Regions from separate parts of the Homo sapiens genome. Here region 1 is linked to region 2. The links come from fine-mapping of genetic effects on gene expression. A gene starts in region 2. The other region holds a variant in brackets. All regions are shown on one strand. Distances are between the middles of the regions. Region 1 overlaps GAB4 (GRB2 associated binding protein family member 4). Region 2 holds the start of GAB4 (GRB2 associated binding protein family member 4).

Region 1 (15,886 bases), 46 kb before region 2:
AGGGTGCTGAGCAGGGACTGCAGGAGTGAACTGGGGCCGTGTGTTGGAGCCAGATGCACTGCCCTGCATAGGTCTGAATGCCCTGTCCCGGGGAAGCAGGGAGAAAGCGGTGTGGGTAGAATAACTCATGGTGGTTCTAGGGCCAGGACCCCGAACAGGGGCTGCAGCAGTGGACTGGGACAGAGGTGGAGCTTGCTGCTTTGCAGGGGTCTGTATGTTCTTTCCTGGGGAACCACGGAGAAAGGGGTGTGGGGGCTGCTGTGGGTGGGATGATGTTGACATGAACTCTGTGGCAGACCAGAGCCCCAGCCTTAGAACCCTGGCATCACAAGATGTTAGGACACACTAATTTTTGGCTCCTGGGGCTATGGGATGTCAGAGCTAGAAGGGACTTCGGGGGTTACCTTGCTATACCGCTTATTTTCCAAACCAAGGTCATTGCTGTGTTTCTGATCCCAAACACTCTGGGCCAAGTGTTCACCTTCTCTTCCTCCAGGTCCCATGCCTCCAGCCTCACCTTGAACTAGAAATGCCTGTTCTGCCTTCGGCCTGGAGGCCATGGGTGAGGAGAAGCTCCTTTGGGGCCTTTGCTTACCCTGGGCACTCCTGCTTTTTTGTGAAGCTTCAAACACTCTTGGCTTCATTTGAGAACAACTCACAGCCTTTTATTTCCAGGCTGCAGTGGCTCTTTGCCTTCCTGGATCACAGCCAAGTGTGTGCAGGGGGAGGAGTGGGTGGAAAGGAAGCTCTGGTCAGGCCTCCACAGTGACACCCTCCCTGCCCCAGGACCTACCTGCATCTGACTACAAGAGCCTACTTCATGGAAGAAGCTATTGAGCCCTTGTCCATGCTAGCACAGGTTCATGACAGAGACTGTGGGGCCATGGCAGGGCCCCCTCGAGCCCCATTCTGTACTGCTGCCCACATCTCTCTCTCCAGTGATTCCACCTACTGCATTAAGTCTGGGGCCTTCATGTGCTGTAAGTATCATTCATCTACTGTGACCTCTGAGCACCCACATTGCCAGGCATCCCTGGGCTGTTGAGGGTACAGAGGTGAATGAAGAAGGTGAACAAGAAGGGGGAGAATGGCCTGGGACCAGGGACCCACAGGACACCACTACCCTCTCTGTGAAGGCGCTGTGTGGTCTCCAGCTTTGACTTGAACCTGGTCAACTACTTCCTGTTCCCTCAGGCTGACAGCAGAGAACCGCTGCTCCAGCGAGGTGGGTGCTGTCCTGAAGGGTGTTGAACAGGCAGGGGCCTGAGCCAGGCGCCACACTACCTCATCCAGAGATTGCTGTGCTTCCCCTTCAATGCAGGAACTGCAAGATCCTGGGTGACATCACTGCCCCACTTGCTGGTGCCAGGCCAGGACTGTGGACTAGCACTGAACCAGCACTCTCTGGAGTGTCCCAGGAGAGCCGTCCCAACCACTGCTAAGCCCGCAAGGGTGCTGCCGCCTAGGCCCTATGGGAACTGCCCACACAGGTGGCCTTCTCCTGCTGTCTATCTGCAATGTCCCCTCCCTTTTACCCAAGGAAGGTCTGTGTGCTCTTTTACCAGCAGTGGCCTAGGGAGGGGCCCAAGGCTGAGCCGGGCTCTCCCAGAGTCTGGACCATGTCCACCCTCCATAGGGCTGAACGGAAGCCATTTCCAAGGACAGCAGCATCCTCACCTGTGGAAGAGCAGACACACCAGGATCCTGGATTTGATCTCCTGGGTGGAGATGCATCCAGTCCCAGCCAAGCACTGGTTCGATACAATATTTCCCTTCACTTTGAGCCTTTTAAAAAAATCCATCCATCCATTCATTCATTCATTGCTCAGTGCTCGGAATATATCGGTGGCCCAGGCACCTAACCCCTTACTTCAGAGGAACAGACTTTGAATAATGAATTATGCAGTTGTTTAGTAAGTGTGCTGTTCTACGAGTGTGAATGGCCAAGTGTCAGTGGGAGGTTAGTTCTACCTCCTAACTGTGCCTGTGACTCCACCCTTTAGAGTTAAGGGTGGTATCAAAATATTTAACAACTGGAACAGCAAAGGCTTTGGCCAGCAGGATGAGTTTCAGCCATGGACAGCCAGAGCAGTAGCTGAGGGCTGAGCGAGGGCAGTCCAGTGATCTTCTTGTGCCTTGACCATGCTATAGCCTCTTTTCTATGAAGAGAAAGACCCTTGTTCTCAAGCAGTATGAAACCAGCCTCTCTGAAGCCTTTGAAAGCTGTTGCTCTTCCTGTATGCTGTACCCTCGATTTCCTCACTGCATCTGGGCAGCATGATAGGGACCCATGCTGCTCCTTGGTAAGGAGAGGACATACCCCTGTCCCCATCACTTGAGGTACAGCATGGAGTGACAGCCCTGTGTGCTGAAGGACTTGCCTAGTTCTGAGGCTGGGAGGACCTAGAGGATGGAATGGAAGAGAGAGGAAGGGTGCACAGGATGGGGGGTCCCAGTGGAATACTGTGGAGGGGACTCACCTCTCAGGTGCACTTGAAACCCAAATAAATAACTGGAAATGTTTCAGACCCAAGAATTCTGGACTGCCCACAAACACCTGTTGCAGATGCCACATCCCTCTTTCCTTGCATCTGAGAAGCTGGGGAGGTTGAGAGGGGGTTGTCACATCTCCAGAGCTGGACTTGGCATGGGTCAGGGCTAGCTGGGAGGCAGCCCCCTGTTTCTCCAGAACTCGAACCCATCTCCTTCCCATGGACACCATCCCATCCAGGAGCTGGAGAGGAGCACATGAGCAGCCACACTGGCAGGGCCCAGGACCAGCTGTCACCACAGGGCCATGGTGCACCTACCATGCCTACACCTAGCTCCTTACCACAGGCAACAACCCAGCCTGGAGCTAGAGAAACGCAGGAGCAGCCACACTCGCAGAGCCCAGGATCAGCCCTCACCACAGGTTTCCCACTCCAGAGCCCGCACCCGGCTCCTTTCCTGGGCCCCACCCCATCCTGGAGTTGAAGCAGAGAAGTGGGGCATGTACGGGGCTTGGGAGCAGCCCTTACCACAGGGTCCGCAAGCACCATTCCTACAGTGCCATTTGGGAGAACATGGAAGGTAAAAAGGCACCAGGGACCTCAAGGGCTGCCCCACTTGTGCAGTGGGTGGAGCAGTGGAGGGGAGTTGTGAGATGTCAGACCTCAGGAACCTGTTGCCAGGGGCCCAGTGGACACAGACACAGATGAAGCCCTCTCAGAACCACCTCTAGACTCCCTTCTAAGAAAGACGGATTGGCAGGTGCTAGCACAATGTCCAGTTTACAGATTAGGAAAGTAGATTCTGTGATAAAGAGAATTTATTTTCTCTCTGAGCCAGGAAAAGTACCTATTTCCTATTTAAGATGAAGTGAACAGACTGGCACAGTGGCCTTCCTGGGTCATTGGAGAAATGATTCTGAAATGGTTTTCTTGTTGACAGTGTGTGTCTGTGCCTGCCCAGGGCAGCCAGGTGCTCAGGCTCAGCCTAAGGTGAGACTTGAGTGAGTGTGGGCTCCACTCCCAGAAAGACCCAAGCAGCCCACCCTGGGCTGTATTCCTCATGAACTTCACTACCGTCCTGCTCCAGTGCTTCAGTACAAAGGAGCCTGCCAGCACGAGGCCTGTCCAGTGACCACAGCAGAAATGATAGCCTCTTGAGCACACTCCTGTCACCCCCAGGTGTGCTCACAGGGTAAATACACATAACAAAAGTTTTAAAAGAAAATGGAATAACTTCAGTGATTAGGCACCAACAGTGATTTGAAAAATGAAATGTCGGCCGGGCACGGTGGCTCACGCCTGTAATCCCAGCACTTTGGGAGGCTGAGGCGGGTGGATCATGAGGTCAGGAGATCGAGACCATCCTGGCTAACAAGGTGAAACCCCGTCTCTACTAAAAATACAAAAAATTAGCCGGGCGCGGTGGCGGGCGCCTGTAGTCCCAGCTACTCGGGAGGCTGAGGCAGGAGAATGGCGTGAACCCGGGAAGCGGAGCTTGCAGTGAGCCGAGATTGCGCCACTGCAGTCCGCAGTCCGCAGTCCGGCCTGGGCGACAGAGCGAGACTCCGTCTCAAAAAAAAAAAAAAAAAAAAAAAAAAAATGAAATGTCAATTTTAAATGGTACCAAGACAAGAACTTAAGACTGGGCTTCTTGCCCATTTTCTCTTAATGAGAAACCAAACATTCTGTACAAAATGATTCTAAACAGCAAGATACAAGTAGCCAACAAATACACAAGGACACACACCGCTGGACCAAACATACCAGCCTGACTCTGCAGTGGGCTCTCAGCAGGCAGACGGCCATCGTCCCAGGCCTCAGGGGCCTGGTGTATCCCAGAATGATGCTCTTAGTGCTCTGCAGGTCAGCCTCCCCTCCCCCACACTTCCCAGATCAAGGCCCAGGCCCAGAACAGAAGTGCTCACTTCCCTGTCCTGCATGTCCCTGGGGGTCACAGTCATGTGGGTGATGCTGTGCCAGGGCCTGGGACTAAGATGACAGCCTCACAGCACGTTGAAGGACCACAAGGCCGACTACAGCTGAGCCTATGTTCCCATAACCAGAATGGTTGTGCTTCTGCCGTAGGAATGTGGTCTATTTTAATAGTTTGAAATGAAGAAGTTGTCCATATCAAGCCAGAAAGGGACTAATTGGCCAAAGCTCTCGTGCTGCTCATCCCTTGCGATGCAGAGCCTCCAGAGAGAAGTAACAGAGCAAGGAGCTCCGAGACCAGCAGAGCCTCAGCCTAGGAAGGGGCCAGACAACATCGAATCCAACCACCCACTCCACAGATGGGAAAGCAAAGTCCTAGGGAGATGTCCTTGCCCGTTTCTCATTGTTCCCACCTGACTGCTCTCTAACTTTGCAGGTGGTGGGGGTGGGTGAAGACGGCTCCCCTGGAGAGCCCAGCAGGACAAGCCCCCATGTGAGCTGCACTGGCTGAGGTGTCCCTTTTTGGGGTCTCAGTCCTGGCCAGGCCACCAGGGGAGGTGGACTTTAACCTCAAGATAGGTCCAAGGACCCCTGTATTAAGCTGAGTTGACTTTTCCTTCTGGGATGGTGGGTGGAGGGGGGGATACATGCTAGACATGGCTGGAGTCCAGGCTTGGGAGTAGAGCTCTGCTTCCAATAGGCCAGTGTCCTCTTCTCTTGTCCTTCTTTCCATCTCCACCCCTACTTTCACCCTCAGGGTTTGGTGGTCACAGGAACCAAGAGCTGGAAGGAACCCCTCTGGAGATGGGACTTGAACACCTCAGTCTCTGAAGCCTCCACCAAGTTCATGCACACCATGCACACTCAGAACATGCAGCACTTTCTTAGCAGCCTGGGATCAACAGGGAAGGTGGCTGGGCTGGGAGCTGAGATCAATACTGGGCCCCACTGTAGTCAGCTGGGGACAGGGGATGGCAGTTAAGAGCTGTGCTGTATGGGACCCCTTGTAGAGGACCTTACAGGGACACAGTCAGGGCTGGGCCAGTGAGCCAGCACCCTGCACACTCTGCCCAGTGTGGTCACACAGCCATCACCATTCCACCCGTGGGAGCACAAAGGCCCGGCCCCTGCAGTTCTGAGCAGCTGGACCTGCCCTCCAAAGCTCCTGTGGCCCCTCAGCACAGGCTTTTCCAGTCTGTCGTTCCTTCCTCCACTGCAGCCTGGCCCTGCCCTCCTTCCCTGCAAAAATCTGACCTAACCTCTCAAGACTAATTCAGGCACCCCTTGTCCTAAAAACCACCTTCTCTGCCTCCACTCCCTGAGGAGTTTTCACTTCCTGTGCACCCCATCAGCATCTTCAGCCTATCTTGGCCATCACCACTGTCTGTGTCCTTGTCCTTTCCCTCACTGATGTGACCTTGTCACGTTTGGGAAAAGGTCTAATAGATTCCCCGTGTCCTCAGTGCCTAAGCCCGGGGCCTTGCCACCTGAGCCTTTGAGCTGCCAGGGGAGAGGGCTCCTGCTGAGGGATGGATCCCCAGAAGCCAGCCAGGCCCCTGGTCTGGTGAAGTGTGGTGCTCACAGGTGCTGACAGGGTGTGGAGGCCGCCTCCATCAAACCCTGTGGGCAGTCATTTTTTGGAGGAGGAAAGTCTGTTCACCCCAAGGTAGGATGAAGTGTCCGCTCTGCCCTGTTCATTCTGAAACTCTTCGAAATTTTGGTCAAAAACTTTCAACAAAAAATTCAGATCCCTACCTGAACTTTGGCACAAGAAGCCCTGGGTGAGGGCCTACCTTCTGAACCTGCGATTTGAGAATCTCTCAAGTCACAGGAGGAGGAGACTGGCTTCTCCTGTCCCCATAGCCAAGTTTGAGTCCAATGTGGCACTGGAACGCCAAGGAAGAGGGCGAAGTGAGAGGGAAACACGGCCTGGCACAGCCTCAGCCCCACCCCAGGCCGTCCTCCCTGCAGGCTCTACCCGCGTCCCAGATGCCCCTCCAGCTGGCCTCCCACACTGCTCCCATGCATAGCAGACCCCCCTTCACCTTCTGCTCCTGTATTCCTTTCACCACTGATGGCATGCCCCCAGGGCCCCTGGCCACATTTCCCCACTTCTCCCTGGCTGTCTCCCCGGCCTTGCCTCCCATGGGTTCCCTCTGTGCCCTCCCCACTGCTCTGCCCCTTCACAGAAGGTCACGTGCTGCACCACCTGCACTGCGGAGTCCCGGGCCCTGCCTCGGGCCCCTGCCTGTCCCAGGAGCCCCTCAGCCCTGAGCCATCTCCATCTGCACATGCTCCCTTCCTCCCTCACTCCCTGCCCCATCCCACCCCTCACCCTGCAGGTATTTCCCCCATCAGTTGCTGCTTTGCCCAGCTCAGATCAAGCCTTCTTAGGCAGGCAAGGGCCCCCCAAGGGGCATCAGCAAAGAGCAGCAGAGCCAGCCTGCAGCTCCGGATTTCTGGGGCCCTGACCCTGGTCCTTGTCACCCCAGTCTCTGGAGCTCCAGCCCTGCTTCTTGTGGCTTTCGGCTGTTCGTCTTCATGTTTTCCCTTCCTTTTGCCCTTCCCTCTCTGCCTCTCCCACCCGGGAGCAGCTGCCATACTCTGGCCTCAGTCTGAAAGTGGGAGCCCTTGCAGGTATCAGCTGCCCTGCTGGTCTAAGGATCTAATTCCTTTGCTTCTCAAGACCACCTTTAACCTTCCTTCTCAACTATTCCAACGTTTGATGGCCTTGCCTCTCCCCTGACCAAAAAATGCCAGGGCTGAAAAGGTCCATGTCCACTGTGGCCTGTGGGCCTTGGGTCCCCGGGTCAGCAAGGTAGCTCCTCATGTTCCAGGATTGAGGGAAACAGCCCAGAGGCTAGAAGGAAGAGGCTGAGGACCATGAGTAAGTGTGAGAGTGGAAATCT[G/A]TTGGGAGCCCGGGTCTGAGGGGCAGGAAGAGACTGAGGATGCTTGCTGGCAACTGCTCCTAGCAAGGGGGTGAAGGTGGGGACCATGGCCAGCCAAAGGCACAGGTGGGCCCCAAGCAGGCAAAGGATGTATATTGATCAGGCCTCTGCTCTCTATGTAAGGGATGCGGTCCCTGATATTACAGAGCTTTAGAGTGTGGCGGAGCAGCTCTGAGGCACTGTCCTGGCCCCACTCTGGTTTTGGTGGCCCGAGTCACAGCTTGGCGCCCCTGGGAGGCTCTGAGGACTGCCGCAGGCACATCTGTTCATGCATGGTCTTCTGCAGGGCCTGGGTCTTCTCCAGATCCACCTGGACATAGTCCACCTTCTTGCCGGACGTGACAGAGCCTATGGATGGCTGAGGGACAGAGGGTGGAAGTGGGAGTGGCAGTGTCTGTGAGTTCCTGGTGAGGAAGGGCAGGCCAAGGAGTGGGCTCTCTCAAACTTTCTCAGGGGGAAGGAACCTCTGCCTCCTGCTCTCAGCAGCCTGGGGGGCCTGGGCTTTAAAGCCTCAACTCCAGGCTAACCTCTCCTCCTGCTGGATGCCATAGCCCTGGCCAGCACTTCTCATCTCCCACCTCGCAGGAAGAGCCAGGCCCTTCTCTGGCCCAAGGACTGGCCAAGGCCTTCCCCTCTAAACACTCATCCATGGCAGGAAATTTCCCAGGTGTCAACAAGCACCAGCCTAGGCCTTTCCAGGGGTGCCCTTGGTGAGCCCTATCTCCCCAAGGGGCGCAATGCACAGAGATGGAGCTCTCCACCCTGCTGTCTAGACAGGCTGGCTACATGTGCTTTCTCGGGAGGCTTTCCTGGACCCAGGAGTTCCTTCTGAGGTCCCCCGCATCAATGGCCGGGCTCTAGAACCCTCCCACACAGTGAGTTCTCCTCACAGAAGAGTTTGGCCTGGAGCCAGGTTGCCGGTCCTGGGTCTCTCCTGATTTATTCCACAACCTCCACAGATCAGGTCTCCACACAGTCATCTGTCTCTAATGGGGAGTCGGGGCAGGCTGATGAAGGCACCACGCTGAGAGGGAAGGAACAGGAGCCCCGAGATCCAGATCAGAGCACCACTGAGCATAAGAGCCAGGCACTGGGCTGGGAGTGGCAGCCCAGCAGCCCAGTGCTGCCGGTGCTGAAGGGCCTGGCCCCACAGTCTCTCCCCCAGGGCCCAAGGGCTCTGCCCAACCCCAGCTCCACCCCAGGCACCTTGCTCGGCTGGAAGTCCAGGGCCGCGTAGTGGATGTTACCAGTGCTCCTCGGCGGGGCTGAACTGCTGGTGCCACCGGAAACAGGAAATGCAGATGCCGGGTTCTGCTGTCACAAGGAGGAAAATCCTGCAAATGAGTTCAGGACACAGACCCAGCACCCAGTGGAACACACCTGTGGGCGTAGCTACGAGCCCACTGGGTCCTACTCTGAGCCATGCACTGGGGCACTCTCTGCTCATTCAAACCCTTTCAGCAGTCCTGTGAGCCAGGTGTTACTACTGTGCCTCTCCTTCACACACTGGATGCTGCACCCAGTCAGTCATCTGAAACTCCCACCCATGGCCCAGAGTAGGTCCATCCTATGAAGCAGCTGCCTCCCCCTCCAGCTCCCAGAGATCGGCAGTGCCCACCACCTGAGGCTGCATGGAGCCTACCCCCTTGGCAGCTCTCCAGGAGACACGCAGGGTCCCGCAGCCTCCTCTCTAGAAGGCTGCCACCTTGCTGGGACATTCCTGAAGTCTGGCTCTGGTGAGAAAAGTGGCCGCCCTGGGCTCTGGGTTTTGGCTGCTTTGCTGGCTGGCTCATTCTTCCAATATCTATGCAGCAACTATCAAATGTTGGTCATGATGCCCTCTTCAGTGCCAATCTAAGGGGCATCCTGTGTTCCACCTGCATCTCCACGTCTCTCACAGCCCTCACCAGGGTGAAGCATGTACATGTGTGTCTCCCCATGGCGAAGCAGACACCTCCAACTCTGCCTCTTCCAGGGCAGGGCACCACCTGTATCACCGTCATGAGGGCGAGGTGGGCTGCCTCTGCTCTTCAAGTTCCAGACTTCCTTGAGGGGAGACCATCATCTTCCTAACCCTAATGATTGCCTGATACACCTGTGCTCAAGAAGAGCTTGCAATAGGAGACCAAATCACACCTGACTGGGCTGGGGTGAGTCAGCTGAGGTAGCTAAGCTGGGAAGCGGGGACATGAGTGTGGGTCCCAGGGGACTCTGATAGGAGCCTTACAGTGACCCCCAAGGACTCACCGGGAAAAGATACCTCTCTCCACTGTCTTCTGAGTCTGTGTTGGTGATGCTCTGCGTGGAGATGGGGTGTTGGGAGGAGCTGGAGTCAAAGGTGTGGCTGTCATGGGAAGAAGGCAAGGAGTACATCCTGGGTGGGGCTCAGGGCTGCTGTCAGGGCTCCAGCCTCCAGCTGGGCCCTGACTTCAAGCATCCAGGCCTCACACTGTTACCAGATCAAGAACTGATAGGGACAGGGATCATTATTCCCCCTTTACAGATGAGAAGGCCGTCACGCCTCATGAGACGGAGACAGGATCAGCCATGTCCACATCGACATGAGCATCCAGTTATCCTGACCACAAGCCAATGACCATCCCACTCACTCCTCCACCGGCCCGGTCCCAAGCTCCTGTTTCCACTGACAGACACTCACCTGGTCCCAGACCAGGGCTCTGTGACAGGTGGCTTGAAGGAGAGCTCATTGATGACCCTGTTGTTTCTCAGGTTGGGCGGTGTTGGGTTGGCTGGAGCAGGAAAAGAACCTTGTCATCAGCCAGTGATGACACCACACCCATGTCCACTTTGCTACAAGGCCCAGGTGTGCTTAGAAAGGCCCACCCCGTCCACCCAGTCCACCCAGCTGTGTGCGGGGGACTGAGGCTTGGCAAGGCTCTATCGGCTGGGTCATGCTGAAGGGCCTTAGAGTTCTGTTCTCAGATTCCAGATCGTATGCTCCTCCCACTGTATCTATAGCCACTGTATTTTCAGAATCCAAAATGGGGACTCATAGTCTGACAATAGATTTTTCTGCCTAAATTTGACTTGATATAAAAAACAGACACAATGTTTGAAATGGATTTAGTCCCCATGCCTGCCCCTGCTTGCCTTGGACAGGGCTGTGTAGCCCACCATGGAAGCAGGTAGACACCATGAGGTGCTGAGGCTCCAGCGCCACTCGCTGGGTCTGGTTCCCTGTGGCCAGACCCACAGGACTGATCCCCACCCAGTTATCCCACTCCTTCCTTGAACCCCGTGCTGGGCCAAGGCCACAGGGTGAGGTCATGGCAGCCTGGAACCTGAGCTCTAGCTCTTCTTCCTGGTCTACACGTGGAGGGCACAGACCAAACTTCACTGGACACCTGCTGTGAGCCAGGGCCACTGTCCCAGACACTCTCCTTCCAAACAAACCCGGGAAGTAGGAGTTACTATCTCCATTTCACAGAGGAGAAAACTGAGGCTCAGAGAATTCACATGACTTGCCAAAGTCAGACGTTCCACATCCAGGATCCACCTGACACCTAAGCGAATGCAGAGTCCCTGGACATTGTCAAGAAATAGAATGGGGAAAGACTTACCCTTCTGGTTAGGCTTGAGGCTGCGGTTGACAGGGGGCAGCTGGACCTCATGTCCCTGGCTGAGGTCTTGGTGCATAGAAAGCTCTGTGAGTGGGGAGCCAAGCAGGTCAAAGCGAACAAGACATGAGCCCACAGGGATGCAGACACCCTGGGAATCATCGCCTGCTTGCTTCACAGCCGGCAGGGTAGGGGAGCCTGGGTTCATGGGCACACAGCTGCCCTCAGAAGCAATGCTGTCTGACAGGCCCACAAGCGTTCTTCCTGGCTAGGAAGAGGACAGTGAAAGAAACACAGCTATCACCAGCAAGAACAAGATAGGAATGAGAATTTCTAGACAAGGCCAAAAAGAGTCATGACGGGGTGTTTTGAACGAAACTTTTGATCACCTTGGCTGGGGGCTGCTGTCTTCAGCAGCCACCTGCGGCCCAGATAGAAGTGCCCCAGCCAGGAACCCCATGGATGGGGCCCCTCTGGGCAGCCTCAGGGGTCAGACTTTGGAGCAGCTTCCATGACACAGTCAACATGTAAAAGTGGAAGAGTTTTCAGTTCTTACAGGTCCTGGGAGGTTAGGGAGTAAGAGGAGAGAGGGTGGCAACTGGAAGTGTATCTTGCAGAATGGGGTGTGGGATCACTTAATTAAGGTCAGAGTAAATGCCTGGATGGTCCATTTAAAGGGAGCAGCAAGAAAGTGGCGAGCCCAGTCTGCTGCATGGGGGAGGTAAGTCTAAATTCCCATCTCTGGCCACTGACTGAAGCCACATGGGTGTGGTGTAGAACTGGAAACCATCAGGGAGACTAAGTCCTCTGCCTCTGGTCTGAGAAAGTTAAAACTCCATTCGATGTGGATGCCAAGGCAGCATACAATTATAAGAGTTCACTACATGGGGAGGGCTACACTTTGAAGCTATCAGAGTGACCTTGGAAAGACTCTGAAATCAAAGTAGAGGCAAGAAAAAAATGAGATGTCTGGGCACTTCTAGCTCTCAGGACCCCTTGGGGTCCAACTACAATTTGTGACAAATCTATGGGATAAAATATCTTTAGTGGCTGGGTCCACTCAGGTTTCTGGATGCTGGGCCCAGGCAGAAGGCAGCACAGGCCGTGCACCATGCAGGTGTGGCTCAGCACCCAATGTCCACGTGGGTTTCCGGATGCCGGAGCCAGGCAGAAGGCAGCACAGGCCATGCACCATGCAGATGTGGCTCAGCACCCAATGTCCACTCAGGTTTCTGGATACCAGACCCAGGCAGAAGGCAGCACAGACCATGCACCATGCAGATGTGGCCTCGAGACCCATCATCCACCTCAAGTCCTGACTCGGCACTGGCAGGTCAGCATCTCAGGCCCTGATCAAGGCAAGGATCACATCAGATGTCTTGGCCCTGGAAGGTGACGTATGGGGTGAGGTGCACTTCCCCAGACAAGGAGATTCCTCTCCCCCAATGGCTGTGATTAGCAGACAAGGTATCAGGGAGGTATAGGGAGCCTGGGGCTCACTCGGGCTCCTGGGTGACCACCAAGCTGCAGGCAGAGCTGCCACAGAGTTGCGCAATGCAGCAGACCTAGGTACAGCCTTCCTCCAGCTCCTGCCTCATCTGCCCTCTGCCTTGGTTACCTAATTCCCACCATCTTTGTAAGAAGCCTGACGCCAGGCCTTGTTGCTTGTCTGACACCTTGGAGAACTGTGGTTACCCTTTCCAGGTGGCAGCCTGGAATCCATCCACCTCACCTGACTCTGAGTACTGCCCTTGCCTTGAGGCTCACACAGAAGCACCCCTGCTCCAGAGGATCTCCTGGATAAGGTTGCTGAATCAGATCACCCACCACCCCAGCAGCCTGTCCCCTCTGCCTACCCATACCAAAGGCTCACAGGGAAGCACTCCTGCTCCAGGGGACCTCATGGGTTAGAGCACCTGCTTAGAGCACCCAGAACCCCAGCATTCTGCACCCTCTGCTACCCACAGGGCTGGTAAGACTTGTGATCCCATCTACTTAAGTACTCACTTTCTTCCAGACCTGGATACCAGTATCTCACTTATCCAAAAACTGAACCTATGGTTCTGAACTGAGGCAAGAACCTAGGCAGCCTCCTAGGAGGGAGATGCTGTCACCCTTTGGGGGATGTGCTTTTAGTTCCATGGAGTGTGACCTTTACCTCCCTGAGCCAGTCTGGGGACCCCTGGTTAAGCCATACTCACCAGGAAAGAACAGACTCCCTCATGCATGGACTCAGCAGGCCGGCTGGCATTCCCTCCACCATGCTGGGTGTACTTGCCGGAGGAAGCTACGACAGAGGAAGGAGATCCACATGCATCACAGCTGATCCATGTGTTGATGCCTCCCACGCCCTCCCCAGTGCTGCTTAGGGTCTCGCTGATGCTCTAGAGGACACGACTCTCAACCCCAAATGACAAAGCGTTACCTCTAACACATCCCTGCTCCCTACCACAACTCCTCCTGGGCTTCCAGGTCCAGCTCCAGTGTTACCCACACAGTGTCCCTCCTGGATGCCTGCCCTCAGGACACACCTTTTCCTTCAACTCCTACAGCACCCACCACCCATCCCTTTCACCCACCTGCCACCTCCAGGAATAGTAAAGAGTGCTTATACTGACTTCTGCATGTCGGTTTCATTTTATTTTACACATAAATGTGAGCTCTGAACAGCAAACATGTTTTATATATACCTCTATCATTTCAATTTCACAGCACAAGGGCCTTGCTCAAATTGCTGAAACACTAAAAAGACTGCAAAGAACTCTAACCCAGGATCCAGGACCTCAGGGTGAGGCTCATCTTTACCACTTATGACTTTCAACCCTGAATAAGCCTAAGTACCATGGGCCTCATATAAAATGGAGAAAACAAGGCTTTGCCCCACCAGACTCTCTCATAACAGGAAGAATAAACAAAGGCTTTGCAAGGTATAAGAATGGATGCAAAAGGAAAGGAGTTACTATTGATCTATTTGTTTTCATTGAGGAGAGGAGGTTATATGCAGATATAAAATACTCTCAGTGGAAAACAAATGAGAAAAGAATCTAGGTATTTCAAATACAAGTTTAGGCTTCAAACAAAGAGACCCAAATATAGGCTGGAAAATATTTTGAAGATCTCATTTTGTTTCAACAGTCTGTTAGTCCACACTGGTTTGGCTCTAGTTTTGGACTGATCTCCTAAACTTCTGTTTTAAGTCTTTACTCGGATTTAAACATACATACACTATGATGATTTAGAATTCCAAACCCATAATGTGCTGTACTGTAACTAAGAATGTTCTGTCTCCCTTAGTGGAGGCCAAGTCTGCCAGTCTTGCCACTGGGTGTCTATTAACAGCCTCCAGTGCTGGGGGACCCAGTGGTCAAGGTCCAGGCAGGAGATGAACTTGACTATCAGTGACCTGAGTGGCTCCCAAGTCTCCCTTGGCCATGGGAGACCAAGGACTAGCTAACCACTGAGAACCCGGTGCCACCTCCCCTCTCCCTCTGGGTCTCAGTGAGGGCTCATACTGACCTTGGTGACATCGGCTGTTGTCTACTGCAGGAAGGGTATTCCGCCTGGGGATGGCAGCAGCAACAGACCACCTGCTACTTTCACTGACTAAAGGTCTCTGCTGAGGGCTGCCCCACTGACATGCTTCTGCCTGACTTGCCTTGGGCAGGGGAAGGGAGGCTATGGGCCCAGGAGTGGCCACCACCATGGCATAGAGGTTCTTGTCTAACGTGACTGTCCTAGGAATCTGGTGCACTGAGAGTGGGGTGGCCGGAACACCACTATTGTTCACCAGGTGGCCCCCAAACTCCTGGAACAGGGTGCTTCTGGGTGCCTTGAAGGGGTACACACCCTCATTATCCGCCTCAGAGCCTGTGAGGCTGCCTCTGGTGTGGCCATGGGAGGCCAGGCTCCAGGGGATTCTGTGGGTGCTGCCTCTGAATTCTGCATTGTGCTGGCTGGGCTTGGAAAGGCTATGGAAGCCATGGATGTGACCGCTGACCCCATCAACACTGTATCCACTGTGCTGGGCAAGATTTTGCATGGCTGTGTTTCTCCTCATGATGAATGGGGCCTCAGAACCCTGGGAGAAGCTGGCACTCCTAAGAGAGAGAAAGAAGGGAAGGGGCAGGGGTGAGAGGAGGCCAGGACTGCCCCAGGGAGGCAGGCGGGGAAGTTCACAGCCCAATGTAGTGAGATGATATGGAGAAAACACAGGAAGAGGAATTGGGCAGACCTGAGGTTTGTCTAGTTTGGGAGTTTACTACCTTGTGGCCTTGAGTATTTTCCCTTTCTGAATTAGTTTCTCCATCTGTAAAATGGTGATTAAAAACTCACTTTGCAGGTTGCTTAGAAATCAGACTCTAGTATATCTAGAGTCTAATTCAATCAAGGCAAGACCTTATTCCTCTCCCCCAATGGCTGTGATTAGCAGGGTGGTCAGTTTCACCCCCACAAAACAGAGCAGCAAGCCAGGTACACTGGCTACTGGTTCCCTGCTGTGAGCATTGCAGAATGTGCACAACTGAATGCCCAGGCTGAGAGACGGTGGGGAGAGCTTTGAAGTGGGTGGCAGGAAGCAGCAAGCGAGTCATCTCATCTCTGAGTGTCAGTGTTCCCCTCTAAAGTAAACCAGCTCATGGGTGTCAATGGGTAAGTTATAAAGAACTATTCAGACATAAGCAACAGATCCATCTTCTACCAGGTTTTACGGTGGTTAGAGAGGCAATTCGAAGGAAAAGTTTCTCTCCCCAGAAACCTAAACATCTATAGAAAAAATGGTTTCCTGTTTGGCAACTCTATTTGGATAGAAAAAGGTTTGAAGCCAGGCACGGTGGCCCACACCTGTATTCTCAGCACTTTAGGAAGCCCAGACAGGCAGATGGCTTGAGCTCAAGAGTTCGAGACCAGCCTGGACAACATGGCAAAAACCTGTCTCTTC
Region 2 (15,886 bases):
TTTACTCTTTTTTCTCTAAACTTCTCTTCTCGCTTCATTTCATTCATTTGATCTTCAATCACTGATGCCTTCTTCCTCTTGATCAAATTGGCTACTGAAGCTTGTGCATGTGTCATGTAGTTCTCGTGCCATGATTTTCAGCTCCATCAGGTCATTTAAGGACTTCTCTATACTGTTTATTCTAGTTAGCTATTTGCATAATCTTTTTTCAAGATTTTTAGCTTCTTTGCGATGGGTTCAAATATCCTCCTTTAGCTCGGAGAAGTTCATTATTACTGATCGTCTGAAGCCTTCTTCTGTCAACTCGTCAAAGTCATTCTCTGTCCAGCTTTGCTCCGTTGCTGTAGATGAGCTGCTTTCCTTCGGAGGAGAAGAGGCGCTCTGATTTTCAGAATTTTCAGCTTTTCCCTGCCCCTAGAGGTGGAGTCTACAGAGGCAGGTAGGCCTCCTTGAACTGAGGTGGATTCTACCCAGTTCGAGCTTCCAGGCCACTTTGTTTACCTACTCAAGCCTCAGCAATGGTGGGTGCCCCTCCCTCAGCCTGGCTGCAGCCTCGCAGTTTGATCTCAGACTGCTGTGCTAGCAGTGAGCGAGACTCCATGGGCATGGGACCCCCCGAGCCAGGTGTGGGATATATTCTCCTGGTGTGCTGTTTGTTAGGGCCATTGGAAAAGTGCAGTATTAGGGTGGGAGTGTCCCGATTTTCCAGGTACCATCTGTTATGGCTTCCCTTTGCCAGGAAAGGGAATTCCCTGACCCCTTGTGCTTCCCGGGTGAGGCAATGCCCCACCCTGCTCCGTGGGCTGCACCCACTGTCTGACAAGCCCCTGTGAGATGAACCCAGTGCCTCAGTTGGAAATGCAGAAATAACCCATCTTCTGCATTGCTCATGCTGGGAGCTGTAGACTGGAGCTGTTCCTATTTGGCCATCTTGGAACCTCCGTTTTCAACATTCTTAAAGAAAAGAATTTTCAACCCATAATTTCATATCCAGCCAAACAAAGGTTCATAAGCGAAGGAGAAATAAAATCCTTTACAGACCAGCAAATGCTAAGGGATTCTGTCACCACCAGGCCTGCCTTACAAGAGCTCCTGAGGAAGCACTAAATATGCAAAGGAAAAACTGGTACCAGCAACTGCAAAAACATACCAAAATGTAAAGACCACCGACAGGATGAAGATACTGCACCAACAGGCAAAATAACCAGCTAGCATCATAATGACAGGATCAAATTCACACATAACAATATTAACCTTATGTTCTCACTCATAGGTGGGAATTGAACAATGAGAACACATGGTCACAGGAAGGGGAACATCACACACTGGGGCCTGTTGTTGGGGGCGAGGGGGGAGGGATAGCATTAGGAGATATACCTAATGTTAAATGACGAGTTAATGGGTGCAGCACACCAACATGGCACACGTATACATATGTAACAGACCTGTACATTGTGCACACGTACCCAAAAACTTAAAGTATAATTTAAAAAAATTAACCTTAAATGTAAATGGGCTAAATGCCCCAATTAAAAGACACAGACTGGCAAATTGGATAGAGTCAAGATGCATCAGTATGCTGTATTCAGGAGACCCATCTGATGTGCAAAGACACACATAGGCTCAAAATAAAGGGATGGAAGAATATTTACCAAGCAAATGGAAACCAAAAGAAAGCAGGGTTTGCACTCCTAGTCTCTGATAAAACACACTTTAAACCAACAAACATCAAAAACGAAAAGAAGGGCATTAAATAATGGTAAAGGGATCAATGCAACAAGAAGAGCTAACTACCCTAAATATATATGCACCCAAGACAGGGGCACCCAGATTCATAAGCAAGTTCTTAGTGACCTAGAAAGAGACTTAGACTCCCACACAGTAATAGTGGGAGACTTTAACACCCCACTGTCAATATTAGGCAGATTAACAAGACAGAAATGAAACAAGGATATTCAGAACCTGAACTCAGCTCTGGACCAAGTGGACCTAATAGACATCTACAGAGCTCCCCACCCCAAATCAACAGAATATACATTCTTCTGAGCACCACATAGCACTCACTTATTCTAAAATTGACTACAAAATTGGAAGTAAAACACTCCTCAGCAAATGTAAATGAATGGAAATCTTAACAGTTTCTTAGACCCCAGTACAATCAAATTAGAACTCAGGATTAAGAAACTCACTCAAAAATGCACAACTACATGGAAACTGAAAAACCTGCTCCTGAATGATTACTGGGTAAATAACAAAATCAAGGAAGAAATAAAGATTTTTTTTAAACCAATGAAAACAAAGACACAATGTACCACAATCTCTGGGACACAGCTAAAGCAGTGTTTAGAGGGAAATGTATAGCACTAAATGCCCACAAGAGAAAGCAGGAAAGATCTAAAATTGACACCCTAACATCAAAATTAAAAGAACTAGAGAAGCAAGAGCAAACAAATTCAAAAGCTAGCAGAACACAAACTAAGATCAGAGCAGAGCTAAAGGAGATAGAGACACAAAAAAACCCTTCAAAAAATCAGTAAGTTTAGGAGCTGTTTTTTAAAAAATTAGATAGACCGCTAGCCAGACTAATAAAGAATCAAATAGACACAACAAAGAAGAATCAAATAGACACAACAAAAAATGATAGAGGGGTATCACCGCTGATCCCACAGAAATACAAACTACCATCAGAGAATACTATAAACACCTCTATGCAAATAAACTAGGAAATTCATAAGAAATGGATAAATTCCTGGACACATACACCCTCCCAAGACTAAACCAGGAAGAAGTCAAATCTCTGAATAAACCAATAATAAATTCTGAAATTGAAGCAATAATTAATAGCCTATCAACAACAACAAGAAAAGCCCAGGACCAGACCGATTCACAGCCGATTTCTACCAGAGGTACAAAAACGAGCTGGTACCATTCCTTCTGAAACTATTCCAAACAATGCAAAAAGAGGGACTCCTCCCTAACTCATTTTATGAGGCCAGCATCATCCTGATACAAAACCCTAGCAGAGACACAACAAAAAAATAAAATTTCAGGCCAATATCCCTAATGAACATCAATGCAAAAACCCTCAATAAAATACTGGCAAACCGAACCCAGGCACATCAAAAAGCTTATCAATCACGATCAAGTCGACTTCATTCCTGGGATGCAAGGCTGGTTCAACATATGCAAATCAATAAACGTAATCCATCACACAAAAAGAACCAATGACAAAAACCACATGATTATCTCAATAGATGCAGAAAAGGCCTTCCATAAAATTCAACACCCCGTTCGTGCTAAAAACTCTCAATAAACTAAGTATTGATGGAACGTATCTCAAAATAATAAGTTATTTATGACAAACAATCAATAAACGTAATCCGTCACATAAAAAGAACCAATGACAAAAACCACATGATTATCTCAATAGATGCAGAACAGGCCTTCGATAAAATTCAACACCCCTTCGTGCTAAAAACTCTCAATTAACTAAGTATTGATGGAACATATCTCAAAATAATACGTTATTTATGACAAACCCACAGCTAATATCATACTGAATGGGCAAAAGCTAGAAGGATTCCCTTTGAAAACCGGCACAAGACAAGGATGCCCTCTCTCACCACTCCTATTCAACATAGTATTGGAAGTTCTGGCCAGGACAATCAGGCAAGAGAAAGAAATAAACGGTATTCAAACAGGAAGAGAGGAAGTTAAATTGTCTCTGTTTGCAGATGACATGATTGTATATTTAGAAAACCCCATCATCTCAGCCCAAAAACTCCTGAAGCTGGTAAGCAACTTCAGTAAAGTCTCAGGATACAAAATCCATGTGCAAAAATCACAAGCATTCCTATACACCAATAATAGACAAATAGAGAGCCAAATCATGAGTGAACTCCCATTCACAATTGCTACCAAAAGAATAAAATACCTAGGAATACAACCTACAAGAGATGTGAAGGACTTCTTCAAGAAGAACTACAAACCACTGCTCAAGGAAATAAGAGAGGACACAAACAAATGGAAGAACATTCCATGCTCATGGATAGGAAGAATCAATATTGTGAAAACGGCCATACTGCCCAAAGTAATTTACAGATTCATTGCTATTCCAATCAAGCTACCATTGACTTTCTTCACAGAATTAGAAAAATCCACTTTAAATTTCACATGTAACCAAAAAAGAGCCCGTATAGCCAAGACAATCCTAAGCAAAAATAACAAAGCTGGAAGCATCACACTACCTGACTTCAAACTGTACTACAAGGTTACAGTAACCAAAACATGTTACTGGTACCAAGACAGATATATAGACCAATGGAGCAGAACAGAGGCCTCAGAAATAACACCACACATCTACAACCATCTGATCTTTGACAAACCTGACAAAAACTAGCAATGGGGAAAGGATTCCCTATTTAATAAATGGTGTTGGGAAAACTGGCTAGCCATGGGCAGAAAACTGAAAGTGGACCCCTTCCTTATATCTTATACAAAAATTAACTCAGTTCTGAAGGAGGTCGGGGTCAAGATGGATTAAAGACTTAAACGTAAGACCTAAAACCATAGAAACCTTAGAAGAAAACCTAGGCAATATCATCCAGGACATAGGCATGGGCAAAGACTTCATAACTAAAACATGAAAAGCAATGGTAACAAAAGCCAAAATTGACAAATGGGATCTATTTAAACTAAAGAGCTTCTGCATAGCAAAAGAAACTATCATCAGCGTGAACAGGCAACCTACCGAATGGCAGAAATTTTTTCCAATCTATCCATCTGACAAAGGGCTAATATCCAGAATGTATAAGGAATTTAAACAAATTTACAAGAAAAAAACAACAACACTATCAAGAAGTGGGCAAAGGATATGAACAGACACTTAACAGAAGAAGATATTTATGTGGCCAACAAACATGAAAAAATGCTCATCATCACTGGTCATTAGAGAAATGCAACGAGATACCATCTCACGCCAGTTAGAATGGCCATCATTAAAAAGTCAGGAAACAACAGATGCTGGAGAAGATGTGGAGAAATAGGAATGTTTTTACACTGTTGGTTGGAGTGTAAATTAGTTCAACTATTGTCAAAGACAGTGTGGCGACTCCTCAAGGATCAAGAACTAGAAATACCATTTGACCCAGCCATCCCATTACTGGGTATATACCCAAAGGATTACAAATCATTCTACTATAAAGACAAGTGCACCCGTATGTTTATTGCAGCACTATTCACGACAGCAAAGACTTGGAACCAACCCAAATGCCCATCAATAATAGACTGGATAAAGAAAATATGGCACATATACACTATGGAATATTATGCAGCCATAAAAAAGAATGAGTTCATGTTCTTTACAGGGACATGGATGAAGCTGGAAATCATCATTCTCAGCAAACTTACACTGGAACAGAAAACCAAACACCGCCATGTTCTCACTCATAAGTGGCAGCTGAACAATGAGAACATATGGGCACAGGGACGGGAGCATTACACAATGTGGCCTATTGGGGTTGGGGGGCAAGGGAAGGGATAGCATTACGAGAAATACCTAATGTAGATGATGGGTTGATGGGTGCAGCAAACCACCATGACACGTGTATATGTATGTAACAAACCTCCACGTTCTGCACATGTATCCCAGAACTTAAAGTATAATAAAAAATTGAAAAAAGAAATGGAGAAAGACAAGAACGCAGAATTGATCATACCCCATACCTCAGGGAAGCAGAGGAAAGGGAAGATGACTATAGGATCAGCTTATTCTGGAATAGATTCTTGAAGGGCTGGACCTGGGGCTAAGGAACAGGAGAGAAAAGCCTCTTCTATGTACCTTGGTATAATCATAGTGACTCCTAACAATTACCGCTTCCTCAGTAAAATTGTTGAAATTTAGAACAACACTCTTCAAATTAGCCACTAGGGGAAAGGGCAACCAATCTTCTTTTTTTCTAAATCGTTTAACCACATGAATTAATATATAGAAAACTACACTGCAGTGCACACTGTCCCTCAGCAGGCGTGGTGGCATGGAAGGACGCGAACGACCCCGGGAGTGGCGGGTGAGGAGGGAAGGGGAGCGAGCGGGTGCGAGGTGCCCGCGTTTTCCTGGGGCCCGGGAGGGAAAGGGAGAGGGTGTGAGGTGCCTGCCTTCTCGGGGCTTGGGAGGGAAGGTGAGCAGGTTTAAGGCGCCTGCCTTCCTTGGGGCCTGGGAGGGAAGGAGAGAGGGTGCGAGGTGCCCGCCATTCTCAGGGCCTGGGAGGGAAGGGGAGCGGGTGCGAGGTTCCTGCCGTTTTGCGAGGCTGCGGAGCCTGCTGTGTCCCCTTTCCCGCCCACTCTCCGACCTGCAGGCCCACGGCGCTCAAGGTAATAGGGTCCCCAGCCCTGGAATCAACTCCCTGGGTCTCGGAACGCAACCCACACAAACCTGGACCCTGTCTCTCACTGGCGGGGAGTCGCCTTCGCATGCAGACGTGGAGAAGTCGCCTCCACCCGCAGCTCCTCCCGTGGACCCAGGCCGCCTCCCCCACGCCCCTCCCGGAGTCCCCAGACCCTCCGTGGCGCTCCTGGTACCGCCCCCACTGCCCCACTCACAAAGAGCCTCAGCTTCTTCTCGGGGGGCGACTTCCTCAGCCAGCCGCTGTACAGCACGTGGCCACTTCTCGTGCTTCCGCCGGCGGGGCCACTTCCGGGCCACGAAGACAAAGGCGCAAATGCCGGGTCAGGTGGGCACAGCTCCCGGGAGGGTGAGGGGGACGGCAGGGACATGGGGGCTGCAGCTCACAGTGAAGGTGGGGGAGACAGGGCGAGAGGGCGTTGCTGGAGGTGGGGTGTGAGGGACGGCTTGCGATACCCTGGGACTGCGGGGTAGAAAGCGCAGTTCTAGGGGAGGTCGGGGTCAGAGGTGAAGCTCGTGGGGAGGGCGAGACCCGGGCGCAGGTGCTCACAGGCGAGGGCGGGGTTCAGGTTCCAGCTGGGCTTTGAGTTCCGGTTCAGGCTTCCATCTGTGGTTCCGGTTCCAATTTGAGGTGGAGTTTGGGATTAAAGTTTAGACGAGGCCTCTCGTTCAGGGTTTGCGTTGGGGATTGGGGTGGGGATTTGCACCCTGGGTCAGCCTGGGTGCATCTCATCGGGACCACCGGGGCGGGGGACATGGGCCGGGTGGCTCCTTGGGAGAAGAGGGACAGGGAGCGCAGCTGGTGGAGAGGACAAGAACGAGGGGCGCAGCTCATTCAGAGGGCCACAACAGAGTCTCAGGTGCTGAGTCCCATGCGCCAGATGAGGAAAGACAATGGAAGAGTTCAGGTTCCTGCTGGGGTTTGAGTTCCAGTTCGGGATTCGGCCCATGGTTTACCTTCTGACTTGAGTTGGGGTTTGGGGTCAAGGTTCAGGCTAGGACTTGAGTTCCGGGTTGCAGTTTGGGGGTGGGGTTAGGTTTCAGAGTGAGGGTTTGGGCCTGTTTGTGTTGTGTATGTTTGTGAATGTATTGGGATGTCACCGTGTGTACTTATGTCACGTGTGTGCACGCATCAGTGTGTGCATGTGTGAGTGTTCATTGAGTGTGGCACTGACAGCCAACCCCTCTCCTCCCATTTATGCCCCACTGTCTTATCCTGGTTGGGGTGGGCTTTACAAGTTCCTTCCCTGGGCCAGTTGGAGGTTCTCATGTTGCCTGGGGAGAGAAGGGAAGGAGAGAACAGGTCAAAGATGAGGGCAGCTTGGCCTCAACCAGACCCGGTGTCACGGGGACCAAGAAGCCGGAGGTCCTTGTCTCCTGCCTCTGGAGGAGCTTGGTTTGCTTCTTTGTTCACACATTGTGTGAAAGCACAGTTGGGGGCATCTGATATGCACAGGATCTGTTCTTGCCTCTGCAGATGTCTTAGAGAACAGGACAGACAAGGGGCCTCTTCAGTAAGCCATCCCCAATGTGCACTGCATGTCAGCTTACAAGAGGGGCACAGGGGCCCCATCAGGTAGCAGGGAGGATGCAAGGAAGAGTGTGTGGGGATGGGGGTGCTGGGTGGGGCCAGGTGAGTGGGTGCCTGGCTTCTCCTCAGAGCAAAGGAAAGTGCTGAAGAGTGTGAAACTGTGTGACATGTTATGCTTTATGTTTTGAGAATGGATTGCAGGAACAAGCAGACATGGGGGACCTGATGAGGGCCAATGGGATGTCCATAGAGATAAGATTTGGCTTGAGCTGGTGGGAAAAGTGGAGATGGAGCCACATGGAGGAAATTGCAGAGTCTTGAGACTGAGGAGACATGTGGGTGGATGAGATATGAGTAGTGACCCGACCCTGAGGTGGGGAATGGGGGGACAGCCCCGAGGGGAGGTTGGTGAGGTGTATTTGGACCTATTGGGTTGGAGCCCTAGGCAGCATCCTCATGGGAGGACCACTGGGTCCTGGTCAGGCAGACATGGTGCTCAGGGAGACACTGGATGAGGTGGGAGCCATAGACCCTCTGCTGATGGCAAGAATGGGGTTCCTGGAGGTGCTGGCTCCCTCTGCAGGCTGCAGTCATGGCGAGTCAATTCTAAACTCACCATCACAGCTCACACTGTAAAGGACACATACCTTAGTATAAATCAGTTAGCCAACGAGGCCACAGGGTACCCAGTTGGATCCTGCCCTGAGATGAGAGTAGGTTTGGATGGGGTGAGACGGGAGAGAGGCAGTGGCAGGAATGAGGCAGATAAGGTCTTCCTGGATGGAAGGGAGCTCAGCCCCTGCAGTGACCTCGTACCGACTGGGGCCTCAGCAGGAGCCCCGACCTGGGTCCCCGTGGGCCTCTGACTGTCTTCTCCTGGCCTCAGGGTGGAAAGAACCCTCTTCCAGAATATGTCCTCTCCAGCAACATTCTTCCAGCCCCCTACAGTGCGCACAATGGGAACTTCAGGAGAGTGCAGAGACTGCCACAGGGCATGGAAGGCAGGTGTTGCCCCAAGGTCTAGCCTGCCCAGGATGTTGGCTTTGATGACGGTTGGGGGCCACTGTGGGCGACTTATGAGTGTTCTGAGCCTTTTTGTGTGTGTATACAGTGAATTTAAATTTATCCTCTGTGTCTCAAGTGGACAAAAAAAAACCACTTTATTTTCCATTGATGATTTATTTTTCTTGTGTCTTCCATTCCATGGTTGATGGAAAATATATATAAGTTTCTCATAACTTATCTCTGTTTCCTCTGCTTTGCAGCTATCCGTGCCCACCATGGGTCTCACCTCCTCCTTCTGTGAGTGTCTGTCCGGTGGCTGTCGGGGAGGGTCTCCAGCACTTGTGCTGCCCCTGGGACCCTCACTGACCCTGGGCTCCTGGTCTGCCCACCCCTTCGATTCCCCTGGAGTCACACATTGGCACCAGAGTCAGGAATGGGCTCTGCATTTCCCCCTCTGTGGGCCTCGTCTGGCTCCCACAGCCCATGTATCAGCGAACTACTTGGGGGTCACATAGGACCCTCCCCTCCCTGCTGAGCTGGCAGTTCATGCCCCGTGGGTAGGAGGAAGGGCAGAGGGAGAGCTCCAGGGGTGGGCTCCAGTGTGCTCCCTCAGGCTTCTCACTTTGGGCAAAGGACACAGGGCATGAGGGCCTCTCCCTGCGGTCTGGACCAAGCTGACCTGGGTCTTTACCAGTCAGGAAAATAAAATAACTTTTATCTGAGAAATGCAAGTGCTTTAATTATCAGGCCCAGAAAGAGGCATTAAAATGAGACCACAGTCATGTCCTACTCCCTCACATTGAGCTGTGTATTCATTTCTTGATACTGCTGTTGCCAGAAGTAGCTATGAATTTACCTCATAATGCCACACCAGACGCCATACCCCACACCCTATAGCTTAACAGTGTACGGCCCATCACTAAGCAGTGTTATTGCTATGAACCAACTAAAATTCCTGAGGAATTGTATCTGCCCCTTCCCTGCCCACCTTGTTTTGCCTTTAAAAATCAGCTCATAACTGCTGCTAATTGCAGTGTATATTCAGGATAACTTGAATCTATGCTCCAGAGTTGCAATCCTGAAGTTTGTCTCAAATAAACTCTCTACTAAGATTAACTTTGTCTCAGCTTCTTCCTTGTAGGGTGACACCAGGATCTCCTTTCCTGGTGCTGCAGGGCTTCCCTGGACCCTGTGCAGCAGAGATATCCCCTCCACACAGTATTGCCAGCATATTATGTAGAAAAATCATTTTCCCTTTCAACAGGAAGCCCAGTTCTTAGGATTGTTGTTCAAAAATATAATTTAAAGCTTAAAACTGAGCACTTGGGTCTTGGCAGATTTCCCATCTTTCCTCACAGTGGCAAATGTGACTGTCAAGAGCCTGGGCAGCTGAGGACAAGTCTGAGCGGGGCAGAGGTTGTGATCGTACCCTGGCCTGTGTCATCCCCTTGCAGACACCAGCCCTTCTCTATAGAACCAGGGCATCTGCCAGGGATTATTTAGGCCTTGGGTGAGGGTCTGGCAGGGAGCAGTGCAGTGATGGAGGGTGTGGTGTGTGTGTGGCGTGTTGGATGGATACTTCTGGTCCCACCTAGGGAAGAGCTTCCTTTTGGAAGCAGAGGTCTCCTGTGTCCCCACAGAAGGATTCAGGTCTGCTGGCCTTTCCCAAGCACCTTGAAAGTCACCAGTCTTCGTGTCACCTGTCCGTCATGCTATGTGTGTGTGAGAGAGAGAGACAGAGAAAATTGTTCAGGTGGGGGTACCCAGTCTCTGTAGCTGCTGAAAGGCCCTGGGACACATGCTGCATGCTGCCAAGTGTTTGTTTTTTCCTCAGCACATGTCACCATCTGTACCCTGGTGCAGGCTGCTGTGAGCACCAGGCTCTGTGCTAGGGGAGCAGTGAGGGGACTTGAAGAGACTCAGGGTCCCATGTTGAGGCTGAGCTGGCACATAGTAAGGAAGACAGAATGCTCCTGGCACAGGTGCTGCTTGGCCTCTGGGTGTGGACATCAGGAGGGCTTCTTGGAGGAGGAGGGAGGGCTTGCTGAGGAGGAGGCTGCCACTCCCAGGGTGAGTTCTGATCATGCTGCCTGATCCCTTTCCTCATCCCATACTCTGCTTCTAACCTGGATGGGGGCCCACAGGGCCAGCGTGCAGCTGAGCCAGGACTGTGCCAGCACCTCGCAAGGAGCCTTGGAATTCAGTGTGCGAGAGGCCACTGCAGTACTCACCTGTGACTCAGCATGTCCCTGGAAATCTGTCAGCCTGGAGGAGAGCAGGAGGGCATGGGGACACCTCCTAGGGGCCCCAAGTTTGGAGGATATGCTGCCAGCAGAGTGTGAGGAGTGAGAGGCACCGCTGCCTGCCTACCTGCCACTGGAGGACCAGGCCCCTACATCCCCGACAAGCCTGCTCACCGAGACTGAGTGGGGTAGCAGTGGCTACTATGCCTTGGGCTGCTCTGGAGGGATGCAACCCTTCAGCCCTCTCAGGAAGCACATGGAGCCCTGAACCCATCCCAGCCCTGCCCCATGGCCTGTCACATGACCACTGGGGCTTGGAGACCTAGCGAGGAGGTACCTGGGCGGTGAATGGTCCAAGCTAGAGGCATGGGCTGCACAGGGACATCCAGGGCCCACAATCCCCTCCTGTCTTCACCATGGCTCAGTCCTGAAATTTCTAGGGCCCAGACACAGCCACCTGCATCGTGTCCATCTTAGGGAAGATGGACAAAAGTCTCTGGAGCTGGCCCTTGGCTGGGACAGGACCTCCTGAGAAGGGGCCTCTAGCAGTGGTCAGAAGTCCTGCCTGGATGGAGGCTGGAAGCTCCTCCTTGCCCGACCTGCTCAGCACCTGTGGGGAGGGGCCTCTGCCCTCAGCATCCTGCCCACAGCACCACATTCTCCTGTCCCCTTTCTGGCTTTATCTATAGCCACTCTGAGAAAAGAGGTGTAGTCTCCCAGCCTGTTCTGCTCTTACCCCTTAAAGGGCCAGCATGGGGCCAGTGGACACAGGTGAGACACCATAACCTGGAAGTGGTGACCTCTCCATGCCTTCCTGAGGCACCTTTCGTAGATATTAAAAGGTGCATAATGGCTTTTCCAAAGTGCTGATGCCTGGGAGGAGAGACCAAGGGAGGGGTGGAGTTTGGCCAGGCCTGGTGGGCTTTCTAGGCTCCAAGAACAGCAGGGTGCAGACTCAAACCAGCTCCAAGATAGTAGGGTGGAACATCAATGACAGCTCTGGGGACAGCGGAGTGGAGGCGCAAGGACAACTGCAGACAGTGGGTTGGAGGCTCACATGATCCAGCACTTCCCTTCTGGGTGTCTACACAAAGAAATTCAAAGCAGAGTCAAAGAAGTATTTGTACATCTATGGTCATAGCAGAATTATTCACTAATAGCTTAAATGTGGAGACAACTCTAATGTCCATGACAGATGAATGGATATGTGGTCTATACACATAATGGAATATTCTTCATTTCTCAAAAGGAAGGTAATTCTGACAAATAATATTAAAATAACCCTGAAGATATTAGAGTAAGTGAAATAAGTCAGAAAAGACAAATACCATAGATTCTGCTGTTATAAGGTCCCAAGAATAGTCAAATGCATACAGACAGAAAGTAGAATGGTGCTTGCCTGGGGCTGGGTGGAAGGGAGAACAGAGAGCTATTGTTTAATGACAGAGGGTTTCAGTTTTACAAGTTGAAAAGAATTCTGGAGATGGATGGTGGTAATGGTTGCACAACCATATGAATGTTAATATTACTGAACTGTTCACTTAAGCAAGGTTAAACTACTATAGTTTATGTTATGTGTATTTTAACACAATTTTAAAAATTGGAAAATAAAACACCTAGAGCCATGATCTCTAAGGCCGTATGTGTTCTGCCCCTATTACTCCTCACTCACTCCATTCCAGCTCCACTGGCCTTTTTCTGGCTCCTCAGACATGCCAAGCACTCCCTGCCTCGGGGCCTTTGCAGTGTCTGTTGCCCTCACGTGGAATGCTCTTCCCACAGATCTCTCTATGACTCTCTCTCTCTCACTTGCTCTGCTCTAATGTCTCTTTTTCAGTGAGGCCTTTCCTGATCACCCTACAGAAAAGCACCCAGCAATATTCTCTATTCCTTTTCCTTGCCTTGTCTTGGTAGCACTTGCTCCTTGCTGACATATAGAAAAAATATGTGTTTATGCAATGGTGAATATGATGACCACAGATTTTTCCCCAGCCCTGTTCTAGGCAGAGACTGGGAAATGGGTCATTCCTGTCCCCTATTCCAATTCTCTCCTTCTATAATGGCTTATTTTTCCTTTTTAATGTTCTAACCTAATGTTGAGCAATTTCAGTTGATTTTTTCATAAGCTGGAAGGTCCATGAAATCTGTTTCTATGGCCATTATTTTCTCAAACACTGCAGTGTCTTTTTTCAGTGTTTTCCATATATAATGATATTCCTAGGAATATCTCCTTGGCCTTCCTATCTAAATTCACCCAATGTGGTGTTCTTCATATTTCAAGTGAATTCAATACTGCCTTCATAATTGTTGGCCCCTTTAAACTTTTATTGTCCCTGATAGGTAGGTGCTCATCTTATTGGTTAAATGATTTCGGCAATTTCCCTTTTTAATTATTTTTATTTTTATTTTGAGACAGGGTCTCAGTCTGTTGCCCAGGCTGGAGTGCAGTGACATGATCTCAGCTCACTGCAGCCTCGACATCCCAGGCTCAAGCAATCTTCCCACCTCAGCCTCCCAAGTAGTTGGGATTACAGACATGTGCCACAGCACTCCACTAATTTTTTTCTATTTTTTTCTATTTTTGTAGAGACAGGATCTTGTTATGTTTCCCAGACTGGTCTGTAACTCATACACTCAAGTAATCAGCCCATCTGGGTCTCCCAATGTGCTGGGATTACAGGCCCAGCCTAAAATGTCTTTTTGATAGAGTGATTTTGAAGATTAAGCAGGCTAGTGGGTCAAGCACGTAGTACAACATTTGAAGCCCAAAGGCAGGGAGTGTGAGCCCCAGGTGGTGGTGGCGGGGATGAAAGGAGAAGCAGGAGGCAATGGGGAACGAGACACTTGAGACTGGAACTCAGGGCTCTTCAGAGAGAGAAGCTTTCAGGTCCTGGAGAAGGGGTGAGACCCATGCGAGTCCCCTGGATGCTCAAAAGGAAGGGCCAGGTTTCCCTGACACAGTGGGCTCCGTGGTCTCCTCCCCTCCTTTTCACCTCAGGAGGGAGGGAAAGAGGGGAAGAGAAGGTCCTGCAGAGGAGGCAGGATGGCCGGTTGAGGGGGGCCTTGGGCGCTTTTTCCCAAGGGCTGCCTCCTGTGGCAGCCCCAGGGGCTTCCTTGAACAAGAACTCCCTGCTCTCCCGCTGAGAGCCAGGGTGGGTCCTCTGTCCCTCACCATGAAGTTCAATGAGTATTGGAGAGTCCGCATGAGGCGAAGGGGCTTCAGCCCAACCGCTGGTCCCTGCTGCACTCACTCTTCAAGAAGGACCACCAGCTGCCTGATGGTGAGCATGGAGCAGGTCTGAGTGGACCAGACTAGGGCCAAGAAACACACCAAAATTGAAACACAAAGAAATACAAAACATGAACAGACCAATAACAAATAATGAGATCAAAGCTGTAATAAAAAGTCTCCCAGTAAAGAAAAGCCCCAATATTCTATGGCTTCACTACTGAATTCTAACAAGCATTTAAAGAACTAACACCAATCCTACTGAAACTATTCCACAAAATAGAGATGGGGAATACTTCCAAACTCATTCTATAACACCAGAATTACCTTTATACCAAAATCAAAGACACTTTAAAAAAAGAAAACTACAATATCTCCAATTAATATTGATGCAAAAATCCTCAACAAAATGCTAACAAACCTTTAAGCAATACATTAAAAATATCATTCTTCATGATCATGTGTGATTTATCACAAGGATGCAAGAATGGTTGCAAATCAATCCAAATGATACATCACATCAACAAAATGAAGGAAAAGATTATATAATCATTTAAATTAAGACATTAAAAAAAATTTGATAAAATTCAACATCCCATCATGATTAAAAACCCTCAAAAACCTGGGTAGAGAAAGAACATTATTAACATAATGAAAGCCATATATGACATACCCACAGCTAGTATCATACTGACAGGGGAAACACTGAAATCCCCTTCTCTAAGATCTGGAACATGACCAGGATGCCCACTTTCACCACTGTTATTCTCCGTAGTACTGGAAGTCCTAGCAAAAGCAATCAGACAAGAGAGAGAAACAAAGGGCATCTAAAGGGAAGAAGACAAATTATCCTTGTTTTGCAGATGATATAATCTTATATTTGTAAAAAACCTGAAGACTCCACAAAAACTACTAGAACTGATAAATTCAGTAGAGTTTCTGGATACAAATCAATATATAAAAATCAGTAGCATTTTTTTTTTTTTTTGAGACAGAGTCTCGCTCTGTCACCCAGGCTGGAGTGCAGTGGTGCAATCTTGGCTCACTGCAAGCTCCGCCTCCTGGGTTCACACCATTCTCCTGCCTCAGCCTCCCGAGGAGCTGGGGCTACAGGCACCCACCATCACGCCTGGCTAACTTTTTTTGTATTTTTAGTAGAGACGGGGTTTCATCGTGTTAGCCAGTATGGTCTCGATCTCCTGACCTCAGCTTCCCAAAGTGCTGGGATTACAGGCGTGAGCCACTGCGCCCAGCAGGAATCAGTAGCATTTCTATATGCCAAGAGTGAACAATCTGAAAAAGAATTTAAAAAGAAATACCATTTATCATAGCCACAAATAGAACTAAATACATAGAAATCAACCAAAGAAGTAAAGGATTTCTACAACAAAAACTATAACACAATCATAAAATAAATTGAAGACACAAAAATTGAAAGATATTCCATGTTCATGGATTGATAGTGTTAGTATGTT

The links.
Region 1: its variant is fine-mapped to the expression of GAB4 in testis (GTEx, PIP above 0.99).

What each region holds. Positions count from the first base shown.
Region 1 is chr22:16,955,147-16,971,032 of GRCh38, forward strand. GAB4 (GRB2 associated binding protein family member 4) reads right to left here. Exons shown (of 10, transcript NM_001037814.1): 4 at 14,797-15,047; 5 at 13,152-13,237; 6 at 10,954-11,218; 7 at 10,032-10,122; 8 at 9,620-9,716; 9 at 8,579-8,683; 10 at 6,790-7,730. The coding sequence ends at 7,587. Among named protein-coding and RNA genes, the nearest start is that of GAB4, 45 kb to the right of the region's middle. The variant G/A (reference allele first, on the strand shown) is at 7,334.
Region 2 is chr22:17,001,341-17,017,226 of GRCh38, forward strand. It overlaps GAB4 (GRB2 associated binding protein family member 4), which reads right to left and starts at 6,882. Exons shown (of 10, transcript NM_001037814.1): 1 at 6,601-6,882. The coding sequence starts at 6,774. It also overlaps the pseudogene IL9RP6.